Homo sapiens: one gene and its partner. The protein of the gene in region 2 interacts with the protein of the main gene of each other region in a biochemical or structural test. Each region holds a gene or a part of one and is shown on either strand. Other genes may lie near its edges. The genes, in order: PAK2 and ARHGEF7.

Region 1 (3,823 bases), on a different chromosome or scaffold from region 2:
ATAAAATAAATAAATAAATAAAATAAAATAAAATATAAAAAAATAAAACTCCAGGAGACTGTTTCCTCCCAATTGAGAAACTGCAAATAAAACGACTGTTTCCAAAAACTGACTGTGTTTATGCGATAACTTAAGTTTCAGATGACTCTGAAGACTGACAAGGTTCAACTGTTCAGCACCTTTCCACAGTCTATATTCAGTAAAATAGTACCAGAAGGAAAACTGAGGGATGGAGAGGAAAATATATGCTAGCAAGTTCTTTGTGTTCACGTTTGTATATGTTAACATTACCAAAACTAACTAAACTGTTCTGAAGGTCATTATAAATTTTAGTTACATTAAGTATCACATCAAGGAATTTCTATTTAATACGGCTTCTTCAACTAATCAGGTGGCTAGCTAAAAACACCTATTGAGTAGTTATTTACCTCTGATGGCTGTAATTTATTTTAGAAAGCAAAATAAAAACTGAGATTTGTCTTGGGTAACCTAAATTAGAACAAGAGATACAAGAAATAATATAATTAACTTACTGCTGGTGTTCCAGAAGGAAAGCCATCTTTCTCTGAATATGAAACAAAACATAACATTAGCAATTCAAGAAACAGCACTTTTATATGATAAAAGGAAAAAAAAAAAGCAGAGAAAGTGAAATGTTCTTAAACTGATTTCAAGTTGAATTAACTCTTGAGAAAAATGAACACGCAAGTAGTCAAATAAGAATTTATATAAGACCAAGGTAAGAAATCTGAAATCTACATGAAACTATAAATTTAGTAAAAATCAGTGAATTATATATTTAAAATGGGTGAATTGTATTGCATGTAAATTATACCTCAATAAAGCTATCAAAATTTAGTTTGAAAGTATACCTATCAATCTGTATTTATTAAAACAAAACAAATTTATTGATAAAGATACTTTCTCCAGAAAACTGCTGACTGAGGAACTTAATGCAACAATTAAGACAATGACAATTGTGCAAAGTAAAATTCTGACATTGTTTTGTTTTTCTTTTAAAAATGCCCAGAGACATACATATATGTGTGTGTGTGTGTATATGTGTGTGTGTATATATATATATATATGTGTATATATATATATATATATCACACACACACACACATATCACATATTACATACGCACAGGCCGGGCGCGGTGGCTCATGCCTGTAATCCTAGCACTTTGGGAGGCCGAGAGACAGGCAGATCACCTGAGGTTGGGAGTTCAAGACCAGCCTGACCAACATGGAGAAACCCAGTCTCTACTAAAAATACAAAATTAGCCAGGTGTGGCGGCGCATGCTTGTAATCTCAGCTACTCAGGAGGCTGAGGCAGGAGAATTGCTTGAACCCGGGAGGCGGGGGTTCTGGCAAGCCGAGATTGTGCCACTGCACTCCAGCCTGGGCAACAGAGTAAACTCCAGCTCAAAAACAAAACAAAACACACACACGCACGCGCGTGCGCACACACATATATGTATGTATGTGTACTAGGTGAAAATAAGCTACCATTTTGTGGTCAAACATTGGTTTTTCAAAAAAATTACTAATTTACACACAGACTTACTGGTTGATAGAAAAGTTCTAGGAGCAAGTGTGACCTTTTCCTAACGGTGTACTAGACTCAACAAAAAAAGGTCAAGATCACTTGAAAAAGATTTCTATTTCTCCCTTGCACATGGCCTTTGTTTCTGTGAGGATGCAAACAGTAAGTAAAATCAATTAAAACCACATGTACGATTTTAGCTCCATCATATTGCTTTTGAAAACCACATGTATGACTTCAGAGACAGACAAACATATTGAAAAATGACATCCTGAGGATGTAGTGAGCAAAATCTAAACTGAGGGAAACAGGACAAATGATCTTGTTTCTGTAATAAATAAACGTCAAGAAAAGACAGCATGAACCAGTGTGTGGGAGGGGAAGCCTAAAGATCAAAAGAGATTCAAGAGATGTATCAACCAACTGCGTTGTATGAACTTTATTCTGATCTTTATTTGAACAAAAACTATTTTTAAAAATCCACTACACCAACTCTTACACTATATACCAATTCACTGGTTCTCTCATAGGTTAACGGTATATCTCAGATACTGAGCAACTTGGAAAACAAAGTACATCAAACCCCATTTCCATCCAGCTATATTCATCCAGAAAGTAAAATTTGCATTACTGTGACTATGTAGATGATATTCCAGATATTCCATTTCTGAGGTATAAATCCTTTTAGTTCTAACGCTTCTTTCGTATATGATTTATCTGTTTTATATATTAAAATACATATATTCTATTATCTGCACACTTGCGAGTTTCAATTTTTTGAGTGGACCTAAACATTTTTTAGTTCAACCTCCTCTTGTCCCGCTAACAATAAATGTGTTTCTAGTATGAACATGTCTATCAACCAGCGTCTTTTCCTTTGATTGCTGGAAGTCATTTAAAAGCAGTGAAGAGTGAAAAATGAAAACAAAAACACAGCAATGAGGAGAAAAAACCAAATAAACAAAAAGCCAAAATATCCATCAACTCCCGTTTCTGGCAAACCTATGAGATTACTATAATTCACAGATCCAAATTATGCTTCAGAACTGCCCTGGATCAGTCTACAAAAGGTAGAATCTATCCAGGGAAAAACCGTTATCAACAAGAACCATAGTTTAGCTTTTCATTTTTCCAGGAGTAATCTTTTTATCTAGAAGTGCTTCACAAATCTCCATCTGATCCAGCCTTATGCCACTCTCTTACCAGGAGGAGTAAAGCTCAGATATTTCTGCTTCACTGTGTTGGAGTCGTAGAACTTTAGGACATCCAGCACAGCCTGAGGATTCTTCTTTTGCTCTAGTTTGGTGATATTGGAGGTCTGTAGTAATCGAGCCCACTGTTCTGGCATGCCCTAACAAGAAGATATTCAGAAATTAGTTATGGTTTAAATTGATGCAATAAAATTAATTTCCAGAGATAAATGACAAAATACACAAAACAAACCAATCTTTTGAGTGTAGGTTTGAGTAAATTTTAAAAGATCTCATTTTCTAAAGGTCTATTTTTTCTTTTTTCTTTTTTTGAGACAGAGTCTCACTCTGTCACCCAGGCTGGAGTGCAGTCGTGCGAGATCTCGGCTCACTGCAAGCTCCACCTCCCGGGTTCAGGCCATTCTCCTGCCTCAGCCTCCAGAGTGGCTGGGACTACAGGTGCCCGCCACCACGCCTGGCTAATTTTTTGTATTTTTAGTAGAGACGGGGTTTCACCATGTTAGCCAGGATAGTTTCAATCTCCTGACCTCGTGATCCACCCGCCTCGGCCTCCCAAAGTGCTGGGATTACACAGGCGTGAGCCACCGCGCCCGGCCTAGGTCTATTTTTTCTAAGTCTGTTTTGCATAACTATAATTAATAGGCTCTGCTCTCTAGGAAAACGATATATCCAACCACTAACACTTTTATAAAAAGCAAAAAGCAGTAAGAATTCATAGTTAACGTATAGATAGAAATGTTAATTTCCCTTTTTTTGAGACGGAGTTTCACTCTTCTTGCCCAGGCTGGAGTGCAATGGCACAGTCTCTGTTCACTGCAACCTCCATCTCCGAGGTTCAAATGATTCCCCTGCCTCAGCCTCCTGAGTAGTTGGAATTACAGGCATACACCCCCACGCTTGGCTAATTTTCTTGTATTTTTAGTAGGGATGGGGTTTCACCATGTTGGCCACACTGGTCTCGAACTCCTGACCTCAAATGATCTGCCAGCCTTGGCCTCCCAAAGTGCTGGGATTACAGGCGTGTGCCACCGCACCTGGCCTGAAATGTTAATTTCAAATTTAA
Region 2 (3,823 bases):
AGACTCGCGTGCTCACCGCGAAAGGGCACTTATCACGCACTTCCTTCTGCTCTTTAAACACTCCATGTGAAATAAACCTCAGGATTTATCATTTCATTCGTATCTCTGGCTCTCAGCAGTCAGTTTTTGGGGCCAAACACTAGCTCGCGCCACCTGGGCCGAGCGTGGGGCTCCTCACGGCGTCTGCCCCAGACAGGAGGGGCAGCTCTAGCTGGGGCCCCAGCACTCAAAAGACATCCACTAGCCACATTTATTAGCTACGGAGTAACATTTATAGAAAAAAGGTACTTCATCTAGTAAAAAGATGAGAATTTCACAAAAGCACACAGGGCATGTGGCTGTAAGAAGGAAGGTGATTCCCCCCCAGCCACGTATTATTCTTCACCTGGTGATAAAGTACTGGGCGAAACTAAGGCCTGATCGCCTAGTTTTGTTTTTTAAAAAAGTTTTCCTGGCACACAGGCAGGCCTGTGCCTGTCTAAAACTGCTGTTGTGTTCCAAGGGCAGAGTACAGCTGCAAGAGGCCTGAACCTGTAAAGCAGAGAACGTTTACCATCTGGATCTTTACTGAACACTGCCAAACCCTGGTATTAAAACCAATTATGTTCTTAGAAAACTCAACTTTAATCAAAACAAAGTTAATCAAAAATTAACTTCTTAGAGCGGTGTGCCATTAATGCATTTTATATTCCTGGAAAACCCAAAATATTCCATCACAATGACAGTTAAATGAGAAAAGTTAAATAAGTCATTCTCAAAATCAGCCAATAATGACCTCAAATTAGCCAACAATAGTAAGGTGCATTTAATGGGAGAACAAGCTGTGTGGCGCTGTGAACTGGAAACGGAGTGGGGCCGGCATTCTGAGGAAGTGCGCGACCTTCAAAACACAGGCTGAGAGGGACGGCAGCTAATGCCACAATTTCAAGAATAGAAGCCATCAACTTCCTGCAACGATCACATTCTAGTCCCTGCATGGGGGAGGGAATTGTGTGAGATGCAGGTCATGCTATGAAGCCACTGTAAGGTCATCTTTTCATAGGAAATAATGTATAGATGGATAAAATTATGTAAGACATCCCTTCTAGCAACAACGTCAAAGCAGTGTCTGGTTTTGTTTCTCCTTTCTTGAAAAAGTCAAAGGAAGTATGCTTTATGCTAAAATTAGAAAATGATTTCAGCTGGTCAGAGTTGGATCACAGAATACATCATCCCACACAAGAAACTCTGTAGGAGAATGCAGAACATTTTAAACATGAGGCACAGTGCCTTCCCCGCTGAAGGGATGCCTTCCCAGCCACCAGTGAAAGAAACACTAAGACGGAGGGTCTGGCCACAGAGAAAAGCTGACTTGATATAAAATTGTATGAAGTAGAGTTTCAGGCTGCTGTTGAAAACCTGAGTGAAGCAGCTCATCCACTGTTCTTTATAAACACACGTGTACACACACGTCCCTGGGATAAACTGATCTCCATGAAAGAATGGAGAATTTTAAAATGGTAGAGCCATTAAAAATGAAATGCTAGCTAAAAGCCAATGAGTAGTTACAATCTTTACTGCTGAAAGAAATCAGATGGACTCTGAAACTCTGATGAGAATATCAGAGTACAGCAATCCTTCTTGAGCTACAACCTTCACATGAAGAAGAAAACATGAAAACTGAGCACACGACAGAGCTGATCCTAATAGCCTAATAAGGATGTGAGGAAATCTGTAAGCAGAAAACGCCTGTGTCATCGTCATTCATTCTTTAAAAGCTCTGCCCAGTTTTTCCGTATTACTTGATAAAGATGACGACTGTTAAAACAACCCGATACCAACTTCTTGAGCACAAAACACCAGGAGAGGTTTAAACACTGAAGCTTCAGTGTTCATCTATTCTGAAAAGTTGTAAAAAAAAAAAAAAAAAAAAAAAAAAAAGTCTCTAAATATCCAAAGACTTGTTGAGCTTTTCTAAGTAAAAGACACCTCAATTTCTTAAAATCAACAGTGTGTCATAAATTCTTTTAATGCCTTCAACATGAGTCTGGCCCTTTTCATCATCATAATCATTTATTTTTTGTTTTCTTAAATGAAGCATAATAAACAGTTAAAATTCTCAGAAAAATCATCTATAGTTGAGTGTAAAACTCCCCTAAATCAGTCTTCTAGGGCCACACGGAGCAGAAGCAGCTTCCCACCCAAGCACCTCTGAACTGTGCGTGAGGAGGCACAATTCAGGGTTGTTTCTCGAGAACACTCATTGGAAAACAATTCACTACTGCACGAAGAGGGCCAAAGATCTGCAGAGAAATGTGAAGCAAGTGTTTTGCACTTTTTATCCAAATATTGATTAGGTTTTAAAGCAACTGATCACTTGCTGACAGCTCAGCCACGGGATGCCACGCCTGGAGTCTGGAAGGAGGAGAAGCACCAAGTCCTTACGGTATGAGATGGCACTGAATGAGGCTTTATGGTGGGGTTTCCCACAGACGTGACCTTCGTTTGCTTCTGTAGGTGCTCCACCCATTCCTGCAGATCCTGCTGGTTGTTGCACGACACTAATATCCGCTCAATCATGCTCCCTATAGGAGAGAAGGAAAAAATAGGCCGAGTGGAAACACAGGTAAAAAGCACGTGCGTGCACACCCCCCAGAATTCCACTCAGCGCTTAAACACCACCTTCTGAAATACGCAAGCAAGAATCTGCACGCGGGGACAAGCTGCCTCTCCTCCCCGAGACACAGCACTCACACAGCTTGTGCCTATCACCTGATATTTCAAATGCATTTCTATGATTTTCACTGTCCTCAAGCTTTGTGATTGTCATTCCTGTCGTTGGAAGCTTTCCCTAAAAAAGACCCCCCCCCACAAAAAAAAAAACAATTAGTGCTTTTCTAGAAAAAGGTACCATTATTAAAGTCAATATTAAATGATTTTAGAATTGGTGGAGGAACTGTGTTTGTGAACCAAAAAAAGCTCATTTGTAGCAGATGTGTGTATAATACAAAAATTTTTATCTCAAATAATAAATTATAATACTGTACTGTAAGCAAGAAACTCAACTGGCGACAAGGGACAGAGTGACAAGCCCAAACACACACTGTATCTGATGAGCTGCTACTAAACATAGACACCAGGACAAAAGACATCACACATTATGATTTTTAAAAAACTACCGTGTATAACAGTTGTTTTAAATGATGTTTTTGCAGAAAAGAACCATGTATTTTCCTCGTAAAGAAATGCAGAGGAAGTTCCAAGTTTAAAGTCAAAATAAGGGTGGGAAATTGAGGCAAGAACAAGAATTTCATAACATTCTACTTTGTAAAACAGAAAATAAGTAGTTGTGCTAAATGCTGCACACAATGCACAAAATGGTTGGCAAACCAGTGCTCCCTGAAAACAGAAGAAATCGGTAACTGCACCAGGAAATGTCAATGGAAAGATACCAGAAAGGGGGTACAAAGTGATCATTACAAACAAGTCAGAAGTGAACACAAAACATCCTGGCACAGCTGACAGAAACCACAGTACATGGTGGCCCACCAAGTCCGCAGGAAGAGGCAGTGGGCGTCTGGGCAGCGCTGCCTGGGGAGCACTCCATCAGCTGCGGAGCAGGATTCTACATAAGCACCTCCAGACGGAGTGCTGCTCAACTGGTGTGGGGAACGTGCCCCCACAGAGAATGGGTGGCAGTGCCACAACCTGGCAGGGGCTCAGACCTCCAGCAAGTAAGGGCCAGAGAGGCTGCTGATACCCTACAGTGCCCAGGACAGTCTCACCGAGACCCCCAGCCCCTGGCCATGAACGATCCAGTCCAGAACGTCAGCAGTGCCCAGGC

The links.
Region 1: the proteins of ARHGEF7 (region 2) and PAK2 form a complex in vitro, tested with the Homo sapiens proteins (one study listed by BioGRID).

The regions. Positions count from the first base shown.
Region 1 is NC_000003.12:196,802,094-196,805,916, reverse strand, and holds part of PAK2 (serine/threonine-protein kinase PAK 2), read right to left. Parts: intron 2,901-3,823; coding exon 2,753-2,900; intron 566-2,752; coding exon 534-565; intron 1-533. UniProt on the Homo sapiens protein: Serine/threonine protein kinase that plays a role in a variety of different signaling pathways including cytoskeleton regulation, cell motility, cell cycle progression, apoptosis or proliferation.
Region 2 is NC_000013.11:111,279,279-111,283,101, reverse strand, and holds part of ARHGEF7 (rho guanine nucleotide exchange factor 7), read right to left. Parts: intron 2,831-3,823; coding exon 2,752-2,830; intron 2,565-2,751; coding exon 2,425-2,564; coding exon of another isoform or gene 2,368-2,424; exon of another isoform or gene 1,978-2,367; intron 1-1,977. UniProt on the Homo sapiens protein: Acts as a RAC1 guanine nucleotide exchange factor (GEF) and can induce membrane ruffling. Functions in cell migration, attachment and cell spreading. Promotes targeting of RAC1 to focal adhesions. May function as a positive regulator of apoptosis.